Regions from separate parts of the Homo sapiens genome. Here region 1 is linked to region 2. Evidence: fine-mapped expression QTL. A gene starts in region 2. The other region holds a variant in brackets. All regions are shown on one strand. Distances are between the middles of the regions.

Evidence for each region. PIP is the estimated chance that this variant, and not a neighbour inherited with it, causes the effect.
Region 1: its variant is fine-mapped to the expression of LINC02468 in tibial artery (GTEx, PIP above 0.99).

What each region holds. Positions count from the first base shown.
Region 1 is chr12:19,769,869-19,781,981 of GRCh38, reverse strand. No RefSeq gene overlaps it. Among named protein-coding and RNA genes, the nearest start is that of LINC02398, 240 kb to the left of the region's middle. The variant A/G (reference allele first, on the strand shown) is at 6,670.
Region 2 is chr12:20,120,504-20,132,616 of GRCh38, reverse strand. LINC02468 (long intergenic non-protein coding RNA 2468) reads left to right here and starts at 4,716. Exons shown (of 4, transcript NR_146523.1): 1 at 4,716-4,801; 2 at 6,782-6,878; 3 at 8,118-8,172; 4 at 11,459-11,637.

The sequences.
Region 1 (12,113 bases), 350 kb after region 2:
AACATTTATTGAATGGGAAGCCCTTTCCTCATTGCTTGTTTTTGTTGGTTTTGTCAAATTTCAGATGGTTGTATGTGGCATTATTTTTGTGCTTTCTATTCTGTTCCATTGGTCTATGTGTCTGTTTTGTACCAGTAGCATGCTGTTTTAGTAGCTGTAGTCCTGAAATAAAGTTTTAAGTTGGGTAATGTGATGCCTCCAACTTCATTCTTTTTGCTTAGGATTGCCTTGGCTATTTAGGCCTTTTTGGATTCCGTATGAATTTTAAAATAGTTTTTCCTAGTCCTATACAATGCTATTCCTATCAAACTACCAATGTCATTGTATCTGGAAATTGTTTTGTGCAGTATGACCATTTTAACCATATTGGTTCTTCCTATCCATGAGCATGGAATGTTTTCCATTTGTTGGTGTTATCTCTGATTTCTTTGAGCAGAGTTTTATAGTTCTCATTATAGAGATCTTTCACCTCCCTGGTTAGCTGTATTCCTAGGTATTTTATTCTTTTTGTGGCAATTGTGAATGGGATTGCATTCTTGACCTGGCTCTCCACTTGGATGTTGTGTGTTTATAGAAATGCTACCCATTTTTCTACACTGATTTTGTATCCAGAAACTTAACTGAAGTTGTTTATTAGTTCTAAGATTTTTTTGATAGAAACTATGGAGTTTTCTAGGTGTAGAATCATACTGTCCGCAAAGAGAGATAATTTGATTTCCTCTCTTTATATTTGGATGCCTTTTATTTCTTTCTATTGTCTGATTGCTCTGACCAGGAGTTCCAATACCATGCTGAATAGGAGTGGTGAGACAGGACATTGTTATCTTGTGCCTGTTTTCAAGCAGAATACTTCCAGATTTTGCCTATTCAATATTATGTTGGCTGTGGTTTTCTCATAGATGGCTCTTATTTTGAAGTATGTTCCTTCATTGTCTAGTTTATTGAGGGCTTTTGACATGGAGAGATGTTCAATTTTATCAAAAGCCTTTTCTGCCTCTATTTAGATTATCATGTGGTTTTTGTCTTTTGTTCTGTTTATGTGATGAATCACATTTATTGATTTGCCTATGTTGAACCAACTTTGCTTCCCAGGGATGAAGCCTACTTTATCATGGAGAATTAGCTCCCTGTATATACACCATTGATGTGCCGCTGGATTTGTTTTGCAAGTATTTTGTTGAGGATTTTTACATCAACGTTCATCAAGGATATTCGGCCAAACTGTTTTTTATATGTGTCCTGCTTCTTCTCACTGGGTGGGACCCCACAGCCTGGGACTCCAGCCAACCCCAACCAGGGCTCTCAGGCTGGTAGCAACTCGGCACTTCCCTAGGATGCAGTGTGAAGAAGGAGAGTCCGGCCACCAGTTTTTGCTGCCTTGCAGTCTCTGCTGCTATAGCCTTCAGGCTCTGGAGAGCAAGTGGTGATTAGGGAGTGGCATGGATCCCCCACACAGCGCAACTGACCCAAGGTAAAGTGGCCAGATTGTTTTTTACATGGGTCCCTGATCCCACTTCTCCTCACTGAGTGGGACCCATCTATCTGGGACTCCAGCCACTCTGTACTCACCACAACCAGGGCTCTCAGGCTAGTACAGATCTACACTTCCCTGAGACGGAAGCTTGCAGAGGGAGAGGCTGGCCACAGTTTTTGCGTCTTCCAGATCCTGCTGCTATTGCCTTCTGGTCTGGAGAGTACACGGTGATTAGGAAGTGGCATAGTTCCCCAGAACAGTGCAGCCCTCCCACAGAAAAGTGACTGGATTGTTCTCCACGTGGGCTTCTCTCTCAGCTTCTCATCACTGGGTAGGGCCACCCAACCTGGGACTCTAGCAAAACTACCCTGCCCCTTCCTGAACCCTTTAGTCAGAGGTGGGAGGAAATCCCAGAGACAACCCACAACCCCTCTGCCTCTGCAGCTACAGTAATAACACCCTAACCTCCCACAGGTTGGGGAAGGAACAGAAGGCACAATAGCTACGCTGGCAAATGCAACATACTGCAGCCACCAGACAAAAAGGAATCCAGTCTCTCTTCCTTGTGACACCCTCCCTCCCCACTGCCCCCAAAACTCTTCACCAGGCAGGGCCCCCGGCTTGGGACTGCAGAACAGCTGACCCACCCATGGTTAGGCATACCCACTGGTAGGGGCTGTTCTTCCCGGGTGAGGGGCTCCCAGAAGCAACCAAAAGCCCCCCTGCCACTGCCACAGCAATGATTCTGCCTCTGCTGCCCTCAGTCTGGAGAAAAAACAAAGAATCTAAGGGCTTCACCCGAGCTTCCAGCACACCAAGTGGAGAGGAGCCCAGTCTCTCATCCCTGTGAGCTGTGGACAAACCTCCTGCTCTTTAACAAGCAGAGCCCGGCTCAGGCTAGCAGAGCAGCTGCCCCACCCCATGGCCGAACATTCCTGGGAGCAGCAGCTTCGAATTTCTCTGAGGTGGAGCTCCCAGAAGCAACCAAAAACCCCCTTGCCACTGCCACTGTAGTGGTGCTGCCCTTGCTACCTTCAGACCAGGAAAGAAGCAAAGACGCTGAGTGCTTTAATCACACTTGCAGCGAATGGCAGTTGCGTTAAGGAGAAGAGGCCAGTTTGTCTCCCCCAGGTCCCACCCAAGGCCCCTGCTCATCACCAGGTGGGGCCCCATTAGTGTGGACCCACCGTTCAGCTGCCCCACCCCAGGCTAATTAAACTGATTGATAGCAGCTCTGCATGTTTCTGGGCTGGAGCCCAAAGAGACAAATCAAAGACCCTCTGCCACAACCACCGCTGAAGTCCCTTCCCCTGCTGCCTCAAAGCTGGGAAAGGAACATAAAGCCAGAAATCACCCTAGAGCTGTGGTGTGCAGCCCAGGAGTGCCAAGTTGAGACATGCAGCCAGCACTCAAGTGGGAGATAAACCCACACTTTCAGAGCACTGAGAGGGAGTACAACTGCAATTGTGAAGAAATACAGGGGAGCTGTGTTAACTGAGCAAGACCCTACCTACCGGCCATTACACTTAAGTGCCACCTACTGGATCACAGCACAAAACATCAATACCAAAAAATACTTTGCTAATATACTCACCGTGTGAAATCAAAAACAAGAATTTAGCTACAAATAAACACCTGAACAAAGCTTTGGCCCTCTGAAAACATCCAGAAAGGAAGTCAACTGACTGTACTCAACACCACAGTTAAAGGAACATCAGCTTGCTCACACAGATGAGAAATAACCAGCACAAGAACTCTGGCAATTAAAAAAGCCAGAGTGCCTTCTTTCCTCCAAATGCCCACACTGTCCTAACGAGGCTGAAATGGTTGAAATGATACAAATAGAATTCAGAATACAGACAGGAACAAAGATCATCGAGATTCAGGAGGACATTGAAATGCAATCCAAGGAACCTAAGAATCACATAATACAGGAGCCGTTAGATGAAATAGCCATTATAAAAAAGAACCAAAGTAATCTGATAGAGCTGAGAAACACACTACAAGAATTGCATAATGGGGGACTGGTCTAAAAAGAAAAAAAAAAGAATTGCATAATGCAATTGTGCATATTAACAGCAGAATAGACCAAGCTGAGGAAAGAATCTCGGAGGTCAAAGACTGGCTATCTAAAATGACCCAGGCAAATAAAAATAAAGAAAGAAGAATTAAAATGAACAACAACAACAAAAAACCCTCCAAGAAATGTGTGATTCTGTAAAGAAACCAAACCTATGACTCATTGGCATCCCTGAAAGAGACAGGAAGAAAGCAAGCAACTTGGAAACATATTTCAGGATATCGTCCATGAAAACTTCCCCAACCTCACTAGAGAGAACTACATTCAAATTCAAGAAATACAGAGAACCTCTGCAAGACACTACACAAGAAGACTATCTCCCAAACACATAATCATCAGATTCTCCAAGGTTGATATGAAAGAAAAAAAATGTTAAGGGCAGCTAGAGAGAAAGGGCAGGTCACCTACAAAGGGAACCCCATCAAGCTAACAGCACACTTTTCAGCAGAAACCCTACAAGCCAGAAGAGACTGGGGGCCTATATTCAGCATTCTTAAAAAAAGAATTTCCAACAAAAATTTCACATCCAGCCAAACTAAGTGAAGGAGAAATAAGGTCCTTTTCAGACAAGCAAATGCTGAGAGTATTTATTACTACCAGACCTGTCTTAAAAGAGGTTCAGAAAGGAGCACTAAATATGCAAAGACCATTACCAGCCACTACATAGACACACTGAAGTACATAGACCAGTGACACTATAAAGCAACCACACAAACATGCCAGCATAATAACCAGCTATCAACATGATAACGGAATCAAATCCATAAATATGATACTAACCTTGAATGTAAATGGGTTAAATGCCTCCAATTAAAAGGCACAGAGTGTCAAGCTAGATCAAGAAGCAACACCCGATGGTATGCTATCTTCAAAAGACCCATCTCACATGCAATGACATGAATAGGCTCAAAGTAAAGGCATGGAGAAAAATCTACTAAGCAAATGGAAAACAGAAAAAAGCAGAGGTTGCAATCCTAATGTCAGACAAAAAGGACTGTAAGCCAACAAAGATCAAAAAAAGATAAAGAAAGGCATTATATAATGGTAAAGGGTTCAATTCAACAAGAAGACATAACTATTCTCAATATATATGCACCCAACACAGGAGCACCCAGATTAATAAAGCAAGTTCTTAGATAACTACAAAGAGACTTATATTCCCACACAATAATATTGGGAGACTTTAACCCCCGACTGACAATATCAGACAGAACACTGAGGCAGAATATTAACAAAGATAGTCAGGACCTGAATTTAACATTTGAACAAATGAGCCTAATAACATCTACAGAACTCCCCACCCAACAACGGAATATATATTCATCTCGTCTACACGTGGCACATATTCTAAAACTGACCACACAATCGAACATAAAACAATACTCAGCAAATTCAAAAAAACCAACAGTATACCAACCACAATCTCAGACCACAGGGCAATAAAAATAGAAATCAATGCTAAGGAAATCACTCAAAGCCATAAAATTACATGGACATTAAACAACCTGCTTCTGAATGACTTTTCAGTAAATAATGAAATTAAGTCAAAAATCAAGAAATTCATTGAAACTAATGGGAATAAAAATACAACATACCAGAATCTCTGGAACACACCTAAGGTAATGTTAGGAGTAAAGTTTACAGCACTGAATGCCCACATCAAAAACTTAGATCTCAAATTAACAACCGAATATCACAACTGGAAAAACTAAAGCTAGAGCAACCCAACCCTAACACTAGCAGAAGACAAGAAATAACCAAAATCAGAGCTGAACTGAAAAAAACTGAGACACACACACACACAAAATACAAAGATTAATGAATCCAGAAATCGGTTCTTTGAAAAAAATGAATATGATTAATAGAGCCAGCTAGACAACTAAAAGAAAAGGAGAAAAGATGCAATTAGGCACAATCGGAAATGACAAAGGGGACGTTACCACTGACCCAAGAGAACCATAAAAACAAACCCTCAGAGACTACTATGAACATGACTATGCAGACAAACTAGAAAATCTGAAACAAACTGATAATTCCTAGACATATAACAACCTCCCAAGACTGAACCAGGAACAAATTGAATCCCTGAACAAACCAATAACGAGTTCCAAAATTCAATCAGTAACAAAAAGCCTACCAATAAAAATAGCTCAGGACCAGATGGATTCTGAGCCAAATTTTACCAGACGTATAAAGAATAGGGAGCGGGGCCAGGCGCGGTGGCTCACGCCTGTAATCCAAGCACTTTGGGAGGCCAGGCGGGCAGATCACGAGGTCAGCAGATCGAGACCATACCGGCTAACAGCGTGAAACCCCGTCTCTACTGAAAACAAAAAAATTAGCTGGGCGTGGTGGCAGGCGCCTGTAGTCCCAGCTACTCTGGAGGCTGAGGCAGGAGAATAGCTTGAACCCGGGAAGCGGAGGTTGCAGTGAGCCGAGATCGCGCCACTGCACTCCAGCCTGGGTGACAGAGCGAGACTCCCTTGCAAAAAAAAAAAAAAAAAAAAAAAATTGGGAGAGGGATCATCATGGTGGATAGGAGGCAGGACTAGATTGCAGCTCTGACTCGTACGGGCAGAGCAGGGTGCGGAGGCTCGCATCATTAATTTTAGCTCCGTATCAATGGCAAGAACAAACCAGGAATCCGGAGAGGACCCACAGGCCCTCTAAAGGAAGCGGACTGCTCCTGTAGGACCCGGGAGACAACCCAGATACAGCGAGTCCCCCAACTGCGGAAGTAGGAAAGGGAGATCCTCCTCTCCCAAACACACACCCCCACTGGGAAAACTGAAGGTCTGTCTGCGGGAGAAGTTTCCGACCTTACCTGGAACTGAGTCCATCTCGAGAGCCTAGCGAAACACAGGGGTAGAGGAAGCAGCAGGAAAGGCTCTGGGAGCTCGTTGGGTCCCCAAGCAGCCCATTCCTGCCCGGCACCACAGGACTCCTTCGGCGGCCAGAGGAGCGGGGAAAATGCCACAGGGAGAAGGAAGTCTCCAGCGAGCTCTGTAACAACTGGAATCCAGCCAGAGCCTCCTGGCCAGAACTCCGGGGAGGGCGCGAATCCGGTGCGTTTTGCTAAGGACTTAAACTTAAGACCTGAAACTATAAACATTAT[A/G]GAAGATAACATTGGAAAAACCCTTCTAGACATTGGCTTAGGCAAGGATTTCATGACCAAGTACCCAAAACCAAGGGCTAAGGACATCAATAGAAAATTCTCAAAAGAAGATACACAAATGGCCAACAAACATATGTAAAAATGCTCAACATCATGAATGATCAGGGAAATGCAAATCAAAACCACAATGCAATACCACCTTACTCCTGCAAGAATGGCCATAATCAAAAAATAAAAAAACAGTAGATGTTGGCATGGATGCGATGATCAGGGAACACTTCTACACTGCTGGTGGGAATGTAAACTAGCACAGCCACTATGGAAAACAGTGTGGAGATTCCTTTAAAAACTAAAAGTAGAACTACCATTTGATCCAGCAATCCCACTACTGGGTATCTACCCAGAGGAAAAGAAGTCATTATTCAAAAAGACACTTGCACATGTACATTTATAGCAACACAATTCACAATTGCAAAATTGTAGAACCAACCCAAATGCCCATCAATCAACAAGTAGATAAAGAAACTGTGGTATTTATAGGATGGAATACTACACAGCCATAAAAAGGAATAAATTAACAGCATTTGTAGTGACCTGGATGAGATTGGAGACTGTTATTCCAAGTGATGTAACTCAGGAATGGAAAACCAAACGTTGTATATTCTCGCTGATATGTGGGAGCTAAGCTTTGAGGATGCAAAGGCATAAGAATGATACAATGGACTTTGGGGACTTGGTGGGGAGAGTGGGAGGGGGATGAGGGATAAAAGACTACAAATATGGTAAAGTGTAAACTGCTTGGGTGATGGGTGCACCATAATCTCAAAAATCACCACTGAAGAACTTACGTAACCAATACCACCTGTACCCCAATAACTTATGGAAAAATAATATTAAAAAGAGAAAATGTGGTACATATACACTGTAGGATATTATGCAGCCATAAAAAAGAATGAGGTCACATCTGTTGCAGCAACATGGTTGGAGCTGGAGGTCATTATCCTAAACAAACTAATGCAGAACATAGAACCAAATACATGTTCTCACTTATAAGTGGGAGCTAAACAATGAGAACACTTGGACACTAAGAGAAGAACAACTGACCCTGGGGCCTACTTGAAGGTGGAGGGTGGGAGGAGGGAGAGGATCAGAAAACATACCTATCAGATATTATACTTATTACCCGAGTGACAAAATAATTTGTACTCCAAACCCCCGTGACATGTAGTTTACCTATATAACAAACCTGCTCTTATACCCCTGAACCTAAAATAAAAGTTGAAAACAAAACAAAACAAAGAAAATATGTATGATATGATTTAGAAAATCTGAACACTGATTGGCTAGTTTATAAAATTAAAGAATTATTAGTTTAAAATATAGATTTAATTTTATAACAACAAAAATGGCTTATCTTATGCAGTTAAGTGAAGAAAAAAAGAGACAATAAAATTGTTTATAAATCCTGAGTTCAACTGTAACAAAGAAAGAATTAACATTAAAAAGGTTAAATGATTATCACCTTAGAATTACCAAGTTAAAATGTTTCTTTTAATTTTTCTGGTTGCCTATAGTGAATTTTTATTATGTTTATAATGAGGAAATTTGGAAATCATATTTTAGAAAAAAAACGCTTTTGGGATAAATTTTAATTTCAATGGATTAAATTTACCAAGAAATTGAAGCAAGGTAATACATGTATCTCTGCTTACAATACATGGACACTACTATTAGATTCATCAGCAGTTTTATTTTATCAACAAGGGGTAGAATCAGTCAGTTCATGGGCCTCAGTACTGTGAGGTCCCACAGTGTTCTATCACCAAAAAAATCTCCAAAGTAATTCTTAACCTCACTTAATTGCTGTAGATATATTCATTCAATATCTGCTAAATAAACATTTTCTCTGCAGCTTGAGCTACCCAGGTAAAGACCATATATCTGGTTCATCTGGTACACAAGTTCTTTTTCCCCAAATTAGCCTAATGGGCAATTGCTTCCCAACTCCATGACAGAGAGCTAAATTATTTACTCTTCTGAAGTTTCTAAGTAAATTGTCTTAGTCCTTAGGCCACTAATAATTTGTTTTGTAGAATGAAATTATCAACCAACCTCAGTGGCTGAGTAAATTTTTAAGAACAATCCCTTCTCCTTTGTCCATCTTTTATTCTGTGTTTAGTTTAGGACAGGTATAGTTTTGCCCATCACAAGAGCCATAAGCTTACAATAGAATTCCCTTAGGCTTGAAACAGGCTTTGGTCACCAGACTTGAGATCTCCATACAAATATTTCACTTCGATTTCAGCAAATGGGAGAGACTTGGAAATCTGACATGGTCAGCAATTTCAACGTTGTTACATATTTTGTGGTGGCACCCAAGTTGCGCTCATGAGAATCCTTGTTCTGAGACTGAGAATTGTCTACATGGAAAAAGCATGGGCTATGGAGTCAAAGAATTTTGGGTCTAAATTTTGGCATAGCCATGTATTTGTCCTGCAACCTTGGGCAAATGACTCCATCCCTAGAGACTTGGTTTCCACATTTGCAAAATGGGGTTAACAATTCTTAACCTTTTTGAGTTTGTAGGAAGATTTCTTGAGATAATGTAGGTAAAAGGCTTATTATGGTACTGGATATTAGTATTCACTAGATTGTAGTTAAAATGAATGTACAAGTGATAAAACAAAAATTTCAACTGAGGCGCTCTCTGAAATGAGAAGCTAAAACAAGATACAAAATTATTCAAAAAAAAAAAGTAAGAACCAGAGAGAAGATACGTCTTAAAAAGTGTATGAAGGTTGTGAGTTGGAGATTAGGAAGGAGGCTCTTTGTTGCATTGCTTTTAGCACCAGATGATATTATTTTGACTACTTTTTTTCTGAATGAGTATTATTGGGGTCTAACACAGAGAAAAGCTATAAAATATAAATGTAAAGCATAATAAATTATCACTAAATACACACCAATATAGCTGGCACTTGAGTCAAGAAACAGAATACTGCCAGCACCACAGAAACCCAGAAAGGGATTTTTTTTTAAAGGCTTTTCAGAGAATTGCCCTACCCTTCACCTAAAGCCAGGAAAAAGTAACTGTAAAAGGAGGCAATGTCCTCTGCTGCTGGGAACATAGTGGCAAGAACCTGACTGAAGTAGCCGAGGCAGGAAAGGAGCTGTTTTCTGGGAATTATCAGTGCCAATGTATTAGTGGTGAGTATGAGTGTTTCTCTTGGACCAAATGTGGTCTCATGTGGGAGAGATAACTGTATGGGGAATTTTTAGATGCTAAAAGAGCCTGCAAGAAAAATGAGCAAGCATCAACAGAAAGAACCAAAGGGCATTCCTTACATTCTTTGGTTCCTTACATTTGGTTCCTTGGGGCTATGTAGACTAAATACAAATTGCACTTGCCCGTGTCAGAGGAATTGCAATGGAGGGCTCATCTCTGAAGAACCACATGTGCCCATGCAGGAAAGAATCAGCTTTAATGTGTGCTATGTCCAGAGTATGGCCCCATCACCTTCACAGTACCAGACAAGTAAAATTTCCTGCCTCTGTCCTCTCCTTCCTCCCTAACCACCAACATGAGAGAGTTCAGAAATAAGGTAGCAAGTGAAGAGAAAAGGAATTGAAGGCTAAGTGGGCATGAGAGTGAAAGTCCATCCCATAGCCAGTGACTGCCTCTCATTCTGGGGACACAGGGTTCTCAGACTATAGCAGGTTTGGATTGGAGGAGGAAGAGGATCTTCCATTTTAAATCAACTTTTATCTTTTAATGAAGATTGATGGCTCTTATGCAGGATGGACTGCTTTTCTTTTTGGATATCAACTCTTTGAATTACTTAAGATTGTCTAGAAAATTCATTTGACTGCACACATTTTCAGGACAAGAGAAGAACCAGCTTCACTGAATAAATGTTAAATAACAATGAAATTTCAAAGAAGTGACTTTCTGACTACAAGGTTCAATTTATATGTGTTCAATATACTGGGAATATCACTAATCTTATTATCATAACAAGATTTAAGAGAGGTGAACAAAAGAGCTGCATCATATCCAACTCTGATAGCCTTTGGTGGGATTAGGACCTCCAGACCCACCAGCAGAATATACAATTACACAAGAATATCTGCCCTGGTGAAGTAGCTATCCATGGAATATAATTTTTAATGGTTTTTAAAAATATCATTACCTATTTCAACGTATTAAATGGGGAAAACATCCTCATGCCTCCATGTCATCTACCTGAATACTAGGACACTGTACATGTATATAGCAATGATGATGAAAAACACCTGTAGACCAGGTATCCGGGTTACTGCTCAGACCCAGAGTACATCCATCTGTTCTTTGCTTCAGTGCATTGCTACAATTTAAATATGCAACCTCAATGAAGCATAATGAAAAAGTTCATCCAAGAAAGTGTCTTTCCTGGGCTCTGATATTGCTTGCATTTGTCACAGTGATTTTTGGAGCACTGTATCATATCAAAAAAAGCAGGATCCATAAATGAAAAGTCATTTAAAAATAATCAAAAATGTAACTTTCTTCCTTTGTTTAAAGCCTACAATATAAAATTTACATCTCAGTGATTATAAGAGAAGGGAAAAATATCAAACACCAGAAATATGCTGTCAATTAACTCCCACAAGCAGATGTAGATTAAAACAGGGTTCGTAAATATAAAAACTGGTACCTGGCTTATATTTAATAGACCTTTACGGTTATAGAACTTAAAAACTGAATACAACAAAATTATCCTCCAGATTTTGTATACTGACAAATTAAAATTTAATTTTACCATAACTATAAGCCTTTGGCCAAGTTTTATTTTCAATCTAATATTCTGCGTGTCTGTCTTCATTCAGAGGCCTTAGTCCAGAATCTGAAGATATCAGAGTCAGGAATTCTCTTAAAACTCATTTGATTTCACCTCCCCATTTTCTACACACAGAAAACAAAGACCTAGAGAGATAAAATTTGTTTAAAGTTGCCTAACTAGTTGTAAAGATGAATGTATAACTTCACCTAATGCCTATGCCTATGATGGTATTGTCCCAAGGGACTTTAACTCCTGTGGAATATAAGGTGTTTAAATCAGATTCCACACCCACCCCCATGTAGATTTCATCTTCTTTCACCTGAGCTATCATTTGGATAGAAAGTAACTCCAGAGGCTAAATTAGCTGTGTTAACTGTTAAAAGGAGTCTCAATGACAGGGAGCACCTAATACTGCCCTGCCACCAAGTTAAGCCTCCCTCCAGGTGGACTGGTGTCAAATGCGGCTATGGTAGTTGTGTGAGCCTGAATGTTTAGTTGAATGTAGAGAACAAGTGGTGGATGATGCAGTTCCAGAGAAAAGAACCCAAAGAGATTATGAATGGTTCTCATGGCTGCTCACAATTCAAAGAGACGTAATCAAAACTACTACCCTAAATATGAACT
Region 2 (12,113 bases):
AATAATTTGACATAGAATTATTCAATTTTATACATATTTTCTGTCCTTTAAACAATTATACAGAATATATATTAAAAATTAGAATAATGAAATTCAGAATTTTATATATATCAAATTTTGTAAGCATTTAAACAGAGTTAACCAGTGCACATAGTCCTTAAAAAACTATATATATAATAATAAAGTCTATATATAAATAGTATAGTTTTATATATAGTTTATAAAATATGTATTATATATAAAATAAATAATATATATAAAACATATAGTATGTTATATATATTATATTTTATGTATGATATAATGTTTTATTTATTATATAATATTAATCTGCAAAAAAACTAGATAAATTCCAAAGTGTCAAAAATGTGCTACCTATATTCTTTCTCTAGTAAAACTAGATATTTACAAATGAAATACTGAAGAAAGACCCAAGTCAGTTGACAATTTGAAACATTTCTTAAATATTGGAACAAAAATATCAATCTACAATTATAAACTATTCAGGAACTAATGATGATGAGTGACCTCTATTCCAACATTTTCAGGAGATGGTCAAGACAATTTTGTTTTTAATTATGATTTAAAATCATTTAAAATGAATTGTCTTTTATTTCATAATTTAAATCCAAGAATTTGGAAAACAATCCATAGAAATCTAAGGAAATCAGAAAGAAAATATTAATAATTTGGAGTTTTGGGAATACAATTCTAGATAAATCAAAATACCTACCTTTTCATTTATTTATGAAAAAAATTATTGGCTGCTTAATTTGTGCTCAGCATTTTTCTATACATAAAATAGGCAAGATTCACAGGTCTTGTGCTCAAGAAATTTAAATTCAGCAAGGATTTATTATTTATTTACTTCCTTTATGTAACTAGATGGTTAAAATATAAGTGATAAGCTCCCTGATAGTAATAAGTACAGGCAACAGAGAGAAGGTAGCTGGACCCCCTACCAGCCATAATGCAGCAGTGATGGTTTGCTGAGGGACAAGTTACATAAACTAAGTCCTGAGGGTAAACAGCATTATCCATCAGGAAGGAGAGCATTCTCAGCGCAAGGAGAAGAATGTGAAAGGAGAGAAAAGTGAGTATGTTTGGAGAACTAAAGATATTTCAACATTGTTAGATATTAAATGATGAGATGTAGTCTGAGAGAGGTAAGCTTTAACCTATCATAAAAGCTTTATAGAAAATATTAGGCCGGGCGCTGTGGCTCACACCTGTAATCCTAACACTTTGGGTGGCCAAGGCTGGCGGATCACAAGGTCAAGAGATAGAGACCATCCTGGCCCACATGGTGAAACCCCGTCTCTACTAAAAATACAAAAATTAGCTGTGCATGGTGGTGTGCACCTGTAGTCCCAGCTACTCGGGAGGCTGAGGCAGGAGAACTGCTTGAACCTGGGAGGCAGAGATTGCAGTGAACCAAGATTACACCACTGCACTCCAGCCTGGCAACAGGCAACAGAACGACACTCCATCTCAAAAAGAGAGAAAGAGAGAGAGAGAGAAAGAGAGAGAAAAAATATTAAGGAATTTCAACTTCATCCTGAGGAGGTAGAAAGGATTGTGTATAGGAGTGTGACTTGAGAAGATGTATATTTGAAAAATGTTATGAGATGGGAACGATACACAGCCTCTCCTTTTCAGGGTGAGACCCACACTGTCCTAGGAGGAGAAGGAGTTCGGAAGAAGAAAGGAACACTCCAAACCCAAAACACATGTAAAGGGAGCCAGAAACTGAGTACCAAAAAATACTGACTACTAAAAAACAGAAGTGCCAAAAGTGAAGGGTAAAAGTAAAAGCTGCCAGAGAGAAAGGGACAAGAAGAACATAAATCTTGAGTGAAGAGTGGAAGTGCAATACTATAAAATTAACAGAGACTTTATAAATGACTAGAAGTGAGGGAAATTGGCACAGCATCCATTGATAATGACAGGAGAATAATTTCAGCAGAGGGCTGCACCACAATTTCATTAGGTTTCCTTTAGATATCCTGGAATGCTACTTTCTAGAAACTGGCCATCAGTCTTATTCTGTAACTTTAATTCTCCAACCAATTTAAAATGATTATATTCTCATCCCCAAGATGCCTAATGGGCTGAACTGTAATACTTAAAATTCAAGTTTGTCTATGAGATAGTGGTGATTGCTTGGAACTGGTAATAGTGGTTACTCTAAGCAAGGACTTTAAACAAAACAAAAGCTTTATGAGAAATTTCTGGCTTATATCTTTCAAATAGATTATTAATTAATAATACTGGAAGGTTTTAATAAAATCATGCTAATGTCCTTCTCAGCAACAGTGTTATTATAGCATCAACTTATAACCAAAGCAATATATATTAGAAGTGACCAGCTAAAATCAGAAATGTGAATTATGGGAATATATGAAATTGCAACAATAAGTTATTAGAGGTATGATTAATGAAGCATCCGCCATGTGGCAAGTCTCACCCCAGAGCCACTGAGCCCTTCTGAGTTCATCAGTTTGGTTACCAATTATTTCCCAATATCCATTAATGGCAGGCACTAATTTTATTTTTCTCTATAGTATTCTTAAAGTACTCTTAAGGATAAAGTAGAATGGAAGTGAATCATTTGTTCCTGCTGTAATGACTGGCCAACTCAAAACATTAAATGCCAGCTCTGAGTGTTATGATGAATGCCACCTTAAATACATAAAATGAAAAAATTATGTTGACATAATAGATGAAGTCATAATTTGCAGAATTTTAGTAAAATTGGAATTCTAGGATTACATATGCATATGATTAGTTGTTCATTCATTTATTAATTTATTCACTCAATCACCTGTATACCAAATATGTATTAAGTATCTGTTATGTGCCAGGAACCTGTTCCAGGTTCAGAGAATACAGTGAATAAACAGACTGAACCCTGCTCTCAATGAACATCTTCATGTTACTTGATATGAGTTCATTCCTTGAAGTAAGAAAAATTCATTATGAATTGCCTGTTTTAAAGACAGGGCATGTGTACTTTGAAAGATTTAGATAGAGATTGGTTTGTGACATATAGTTTCTCTCTTTCCCAAATATATTTAAAATATTTATTGTCTCTCTTTGACAAAAAAATGAAATCATGGCTCTCTGTTGAAGGCCAAGGAAAAGGATCCATAATATATTTACATTTCCATCCTTGAAAAAGAATTCTAATCACAACAGAAGACTTTTTTTAAATAAGCATTTTAAAGAAATTATAATTTCAAATTTGAAATCTGTCAGCCAAACACTTAATTCATCAGTCATCTGCATATTTCAAGACTCAGTAATCTCCAGATGTGTCTCAATTATACCAATAAAATAAGACTAAGTACATGTCAACCCATGTTTTACAACTTGCATAGCTTACTTCTAATGCCTTTGTTCTGCTTACATATTGTGAGGAAGTGTTTATCTTTTTGCATATTTCTGAGTGATAGCATATAAAGACATACAGTATTTAGGATTTTTACAACTTTTTTACTTACTCATGAAACATTATCACTCATAAATGCAAAAGGCATGCATAATGATAAGGAAACCTCTGTGGTTTTCTTTAAATTCAGAAAGAACTTCATTAAAATTCCCACAATTTTATGACTGTTGCAGTCTAGGCCACATAATTTATTTTTATTTTGTGACTTGCTACAAATAAATTCTTGCTTAGTCCCAGACTTCTCTTAGCTTGATAAAATTTAAGAGCCTCTTTTAAATTTGGATACATTTTGACATCTTCAGTGGGTTTTATATGTACTCAAGTTGTTCTTTCCCTACACAGTTTTCTCGTATTATCGAATAAGCTAAGGAAAAACTGATGTTATTACTATGTTTGGTGAATTTTCAAATTTAGTATTAAATGTGTGCTCTTTTGTAAAAATCTGCTTGTAATTCATGTGTTGAAATGTTTCTTCACCCAACATGGCACATGTATACATATGTAACTAACCTGCATGTTACGCACATGTACCCTAAAACTTAAAGTATAATAAAAATAAATAAATAAATAAAAAGAAATGTTTCTTCATCTTTTACTCTAATTTAATCCACCAATTGATCAATCATTAATTCAACATTTATCTAGCCCCTACTGTGTTCGACACACTACTCTGGTTGCAAAAAATATAAGTGAAGAAAATGAACGAAAATTCCTGCCCTCATAGCACTGTAATGCCCTCTCAATAGTAAACATTTTTTTTTAGAAATGCAACCTTCTAACCACAAAATTTAATTGTGCTCCACTGTCTTCAACCTCTCTTAAAGTTTCAATTATTTATAAGCATAGTTTTTCCAAAAAATAGATTTCAAAATCACAATAACATAAAGCACGTTTCACATCTCTCTTGTTTCCTAAATTTTTCCAGGGCTTACTTTCCAGTTAGAAACACCTTGTGTTATAAATGTCTCTTCTTGTATCTAAAATTTTTGGTAAAACAATTGGCACAAACAACAGAATGCTCGATAGTTTTACCATTGAAAATATGAATACGAATAATTTTTAAAATTTAGTAGTATACTTTAAAATTTCATACGTTGAGAAAATGTAGAAATTGTGGCAGAGGTTGATAGTAGTCCTCCAATGGATATTTTCTCCTTTCTTTGTAATTCAACCTTGCCCTTGTTGGGTTCTTTTTCGTTTCTGCCAGCTAGAACATCAATAAGATGCTGGAGTTTAATCAACCACAGCAGACTGTGAGGTGGAAGCCACTTGGTGATTGTGAGCCAGCACCAAGATCGAAGGCATTTGGATCCCTGGTGATCACAGACCCAGCATGTCATCTCTGCAAAGGTGACATTAGATTCTATTTGAAGAAGAAGACATCCATATTGTTTAAGACGTTGTTATTTGGAGTTTTCTGTCAGTAGCAGGCAAACCTAATTCTAACTAACATAGCCTACAACTTACTTTCACAAATTTAACAATCTATGCTACATCCTGTATAATTCTTACCATCTTGATTATTTACTGAAGATGATGAAATGTTCAGTTATGTCACATGCCTATTATTGGCAACAGCATGATTCACCAACTCTTGGAGATTTTCCTGAAAAATAAAAACACTAGTGTTTGTTATGACCTTATTTGTATATAATCACAGATATATAGAAGTAAACCAAATCAATCTTGAACAAAATAGCGAATAACTGGTGATAATAAAAATATCTATATGGAGAGAGACACAGCTAAAAAGGTAAGAGGAAGCCCCACCAATACCAGCTAAGCACGGGGAAGGCAATGCTGGAGTATTTAATTGAGTCATTTCAAGTTGTGTATATGACTTTTACTTGCTTTTATCAAATACAATGTTTATTTCATTTAACCACAGTAAAACGAAAACTGTGACTTGTGTTTCACAGTGAGTATAACTGATTTAATGGAATTGTTGCAGTTCTATCACTTTTCTGAGTTAAAGTTTGCCTCCCCTAACTATTCTGGAAAATAAAAATTCACATATTCTCTGTTCTTTTTTTCCTTCCTCTACTTAATTCTATCTTATGCATGACATTTTACAGAAGGCTCATCTTCATTTTCTAATCAAGATGGCATATATTAAAAATCAGATCCATCATGTGTCATGCAACTATCATACGACACTGATTATTTTTCCAAATTCCAATGATTTACAACTGCCGTTTAATTGCCTGAGAGCATTTTAATCCAGGGTAGTTAACATTACTTGAACTGCTACATCATTTAATTGTAACATTATAGGTTTACAAGCAAAAGCAAGCCTTGAACTAGAGACAGCAAGTCTACGAAAAAAAAAAATCCAAGAGAAACCATCAAGTTTTAAAAGTTGATGTCAGAAATATCTCATTTAGTTCAAATAAACTACTGCGAAATAACACACTTTAAAACATGTAAATAAAGAGCTAAGTACCTAAAAGTAAAAAATAATATCTAGATGAAAGAGATAATTTATGTGTTGGATAGTGAGACTGGGCGTAAAAAGTCTGGTTCCCAAACATTTATGAAATATTTACACCATTCCTCAGGAAATAGCTAGAATATAAACAAAGTACCCTTCCTAGAAGAGCTTCAAAAATCATTTTTATAGTGGCAATTAATTTAATTCCTGAAACTCTGAGGAAATTACAAATCTATTGTGAATGTTTATGGTACTTGATAAATCAAGACCAGAAATGTTATCATCATTAACAATCATCAATAATTACAAAACTATTCAAGAGAGTCACATAAGAAAAAAATACTTTTAGCTGAGATGCAACTGAGCAAAAGTATGTTTCAAATTGTTTTTTAGCATGATACACAGAAGTCCAAGTTACATTTTAAAATTTTTGATTCTACTACACACAATTTTAATAGATTTTAATACATTACTAAACCAGAATAGCAAATGCTATACCCTGGTATCACACCAGCTAAAAAAAAATATGATCAGAAATTCACTTATTTCATAAATATAAAAGTGTGAAAATTTATGGACTTTCTTTTTTTATAATTTTAAGTAAGTTTTAAAAATGTTAGCATCTCTGTGTTCCCCACTGCAGCACAGAGAAGCACTATGGTATTGCGATTAAGAGTGGTTAATCAAACTGTCCTGGGTTCAAATCCAGGTTCTGTGCCATCTGTGTAATCTTGAATAAATTACTCATCTCCACTTGCCTCAGTTGTAAAAATAAGAATAACATTTATCTCATAAGATCATGTAAGGAATAGCTTGCAAAGCTCAGAGCTTCAAGTAAGAAGTGGGCATAAAAATCCAATTCTGGCCTCATTTACTCTCATTTATTTACTCTTTTTTAGGTCTTTGAGCAGGAGCCCAAGGAAGGAAAAATAAGGACACACATTTTTGGCTGGATTAGTAACATCTTTCCTTTGTCTTCATCCACCAGTGTTCTTGGTACACTGAAATGTAACAAGAAATTTGAAAAATCTTATTTTCCATGTCAGAAGCTATTACATCATTCCATTTGCAATAACATACTTTAATCTTCTCCAGGTTTCATAAATTCTTGGGACAACTATAATAAATGTTATTTGCTTGGAAAGCTAAAGAAGAATGCATAGTTAAATTTTTCAAAGTATGACCCCCATTACACTAATACTGAAGGAGAAGCTAAGTGGTTGAATTGGAAGGATAGGCGATAATATTGCTATGCTTCTGAAAGAGTACCCATTCAGGAAATATTAGGAAATCTTAGTATTTGGATCCAAAGCCCTTGCCAAGAGACCTTGGCAGATGCAGCGAAGCAGTCCTTTATTAGATGTGTCAGTCTCAGCTGCACACATATCTTTGTAGTTAAGATATAAATGCTCCTCCTCTAGTCACAATGGAGATAAGTGCTGAAAAACCTCTAGAGACAGGCTATTTAACAACTAGTGAGATTCCTTGGACTACCCATGTAGAATCTCCTTCGTTTCATTGAGGTTTCCTCCCAATATACTCAGATAATTGATTTTTTTGATTTTTTAAATTAATTCCACATTAGATTCTGTATTACTATGAACCACACTACCGTTTATGGATAATTAACATCTGGTTGCAAACAACGGTCTCATTGTTTTAACCTCATGTGGGCTTACAGGATTAATGGAAAGTTCACTGAAACCAACACTTCCTTATTCTGTTTAAGGATTATCAAAGATTTATGAATTCATTTTATAAAATTTCCATCCTTAACCATACTTTTTAAACACCTTCTAAAAATCAATTACCTCATTTTCAATTAATTAAGCCAATTAAACTATGAAAAATGTTCACGTGATGATGGCTCCCCAGTTAACACATTTCAAGAAGCTGTTTTGCCTTTCACATATCTTCTGTTACATGCCAAGTACTAATCTCTACCCCGATCCTCTCTATATTAATCCTAATTTTTAAAGGTAGAGACCCATACATTACATCTTAATATGTATTTTTTACATTTAAATTGTAGTCAAGCTTTTTAAAAATTATATCATAGTAAAATGCCTATTTTGCCATTGAAACAGTTGCAATATGACATTAACGTATGAAAGCATCCTTATGAACCCCACAAATATGTACAATTATTTGTCACTTTAAAAAAGTAAAGAAAAAAAGAGCACTTAGCGTTTCAGCAAATCAAGTCTTGTAAGTAATGCTAATATTGTCTTCTAGCTTCCCAGAAAGTGTGGAATATTGGCCTTCCTTTTCAGATTCATGTGAAAGCTTGGTAAGTATTACTCTTAGATAAAAGAGATAGATGAGTGTTCTAAGCTCATCTTTTTGCTCCCAACTCTGGAGAGATAATGATGCCTACTTACGCTCAGATGCACTGGGTCATATACCTTCACCAGATCACAAAACCCAGGTCAGATACATATGTGTGATGGTGTGTCACTTTCTACCTAGATGAAGGCTATCATTCCATCAGCCTTCAGTGTGTTTCTTCTAGGGGCATAAAAGGTAAGATGGCAAGGATGCCTAATGCTGAACACTAAGTGGACAAGTGACCTCCAGCAGGTTAGAGTAGCATAAAAGAAGGCTGAGTTAGTCGTGAAAGGAGCTAGAAGCCAACAATATTTATTTCCTAGCTATGTTACTCTCCTAGCCTCAATTTACTCTTACATAAACAGAGTAAAATCAACATGAGTGACCCACTAGAGCAGAAGAGGGTGAAATATATAGGAGGGCAATGATTTAGACCAGGCAGAAGAATGGGCTTGAAGAAGTCTTTCCCAGAGTAGTTGATGCTTTAAGAGAGGTATAGGACTCACCTGGGTGAAGAAGATTTTGAAAGAAAGGTGGCTTAGACAGAAGGGATAGTGAATGAGCAAGGTTATTGTGAGGATTCATGAGATAATCAAAACATTTATCCCACATTGTGCTTGGTCCTTAACTGTTAATACGTTCGCTCTTTAGTCCAACAAGGCAGATGTTGCCTAATCCAACAAGAAAATGTTTGCTTTTGGCAAATGTGCTGCCAGCGGCATTCTTAGCACTCAACAGCAGAGCACCTTAGAACTATGGAAAGGCATGTCAAAGCCACTGCACTAGTGTATGACTTCTGCCATTGCACAGAGCCCTGCACTTAGGAGGTTTCTAAGCTTGTTAACGCTATGCTGTTGCTGTCTTAAAATTCTTAATAATTTTGAACAAAGCACTCACATTTTCATTTTTCACTGGGCCCCACAAATTACATAGCCAGTCCTATTTGTGCTATCAGATAATCCCAATTTGTGTAAATCAGATGGATTGACATTCTGGTTTTCTTACTTCCTAGCTTCATGAACTTCTAGGAGCTTTAACGATAGAAATATCAAAATTTTTTTACTCATTTGTGACGATCAAACATATTTTGATTATAAAACTAATTTTTATTTTATAAAACATTACAGAAACAGAGAGAACAGTATTCAGTCAGCTACTGAGATCCTTGTTTATTTTTAAAAAATTCACTATTTGGAATGATTTCAAATATCTGGAAATTAGTACATGCCTATTGCCATTTCCTCTCTCTTCTTCTCCTTCTCTTTTTCTCTGTTCCTGTTCTCTCCTTTACAACTGAGCTTATAGTATATGGTAAATACTGTACTGAGTGCCAAAAACACAGATCCAAGCAGACACAGTCTCTTCTCTTGAGGAGCTTATACTTACATAGAAGAAATAGAAACAGAAAATGACAAGGTTGGTGAAGTAATAGAAGTGTAATAGGCATTTCACAGAAAAAGCACAGGGTGCAATAAGAATACACAAGAGAGCAGTAGCTAAGATTTGGGGAGGTGATGTGAGTGGAAGTGGCTCTGGGAAGTCTTTCCCAAGAAAGTTGATAATTCAAGAAAGGGACAGGATTTAGATGAAGGAAGGAGGCATTGGAAGGAAGGTGTTTTAGGCAAAAGAGAAATTGTATGTGCAGTCATAAAAGCTTGAAACACATGTTTCTTATGAGAAAGCACAAGTAGTTCTATTTATTTGTGTCAGAGATGCATGTGGAAGAGTGAAGAATGAGGAGGCTGGAAAGGGAAATAGGCAAAGGCCAGATCCACGGGTATTATAAGGGGTAAACCAGAGTTCTAAATTCACCCTGAATGTTCCTTGAAAATTATGAAAAGGTAATGAAAGTAGAGAGATGATATGGCTAGATAACAGTGTAGAGATGAATGATAATGCAACTTAGACAAGAAATATTTGTGGAAGAACAGCGGACTCTAGTGATACTATAGAGTGGAAATTCAGAGCAAGCTTCAGGCCCTCTAGAAATATTTTATGGAGCAACTATTATGGAGCAAGTACTTTGTTATGTTCAGAGAACACAGAGATAACTAAGATAGATCCCCTCTTCTCCAGAAGGGTCGAATGCAACGTAGTGAGTGCAGTGAGCATGCTATACCCATAATATTGAACGGAAAAGGGGCCCCCAAACTTCCTAAAGGACACAGAGAGTCTTTTGCAAAAGAACTGACACTAAGTCTCAGAGGAATGTCCTGAATCGAGACTTAAAAGATTAAAGGAATTAATCAGACACAGGATGAGGTAATTAGAAAGGAGGAAATATTCTAGGCAAAGAAAGTAACATAAGCAAAGAAAAAGAAATGAGAACTTATATAGACAGTGCAGAGTCCAGGGGAGAGGTGGATAAGAGACTGAACTGGAACAGTAATTGTAGAGATGACGACTAAAAAGGAAAGCCAGATTTATGGAATGTTTAGGAAGCATTAGCATGACTTTGTCATTGTTTGGATGTGAGAAGTGATGGAGGTGGAGGAATGAGAGGAGATTTCTTTTCCACCTTGCCTTTTTTACCCCTTAAGTGCCAAAAACCACAGACAATTTCCCAAGCTATTAATTCTAGCTAAGTGTTTTTCCTCCTCAGGCTATGTTTTAGGAGGACAGTCTGTGGTATAAATCTACAATCAATGTAAATTAATATAACTACAGTCACACTACTTACTGATTCCAAAACAGATATACTTGGAATCCCAGCACAAACTCGTTTTTTCAAATATAGCTCCAGACACACTCATGGTCAACATGTCCCCCTGTCAAACAACAACTACTTACCATCAACTTAATACATCATATACAAGGTGTAAAGATATCTCCTTTCTCAAATCAAATTCAAGTGGTTCCACTGTAGAATCACAGAATTTCAGGTTGGAAGGCATCTTAATAGTTATAGAATCCAAATATTTGGGACACTCTGCAATTTGAATTTTGTATTCACAGTTTTCATGAGGTCAACAGGCTAGAGAGCAAGACAACTTACCACTTGCTTTCATAAGTTTTTCTTTAAGTCCTACGTCTGAGAAATAAAATGATTTGAGAACCTGAGAACAATAAAATATGACTACTGATTTCATAGCCCCATGTACTTTCAAATTCACTTTCCTATGTTGTCAAAGCAAGGTTGATTTTTTTTCTCTCCTCATTTAAATGTTTCTCATGCTTTTTGGTGTAAGAATTATATTAAAATGAAATTAGTCACTGCTTGTTTTTATTTTGCCTGGTTTCTTTGACAGGAGAAAAGAACACAGACTAAAAGGAATATAAATCCAAAAGAATGAGTGAAATGGGAATACACAAGGCATGAGCAATAAGACTGTTCTCTCAGAAACAATGAGAATAACTGCTCTACATCTTACAAACCAGAAACTTACACGTTGTATCTCATTAAATTTTATTTTGAATATTGAGAACATTCAGTGCGTGGATAATATTTAAAAGTCATAACTCCGGAGGTAGAACCAGTTGATGAATAAAAAAAAACTTCTAGTCAAAACATAATTTATCTATTATGTACAGGACAGGCCAAAACCTTGTTTTGCCTCCTGGAAAATTATTTACAAGAAAATGATTGCTTAGAATGTTCCTTCTTAAGGAGGTCCCCCAAATCTCTAAATATAGATGGTTACATAAACTAATTCAACCTAGAAAACAAGCACACCCCCTACTTATGTATATACATGTCTTACCAGATTTATAACCTATAGTATCTGGAGCAAGGAAAAAGGATTTACATATTGAAACAAAAGGAAAAGTATAATTTTTTTATTATTTGATAAGGCAGTCATAAATTTCTGACATAAACACATGATTATAAATGGAAGGTGTCTTTCTAATGTATCATACTAGATATGCTATAAGCTCTGAAACATGAGATCAATCCATGACTAA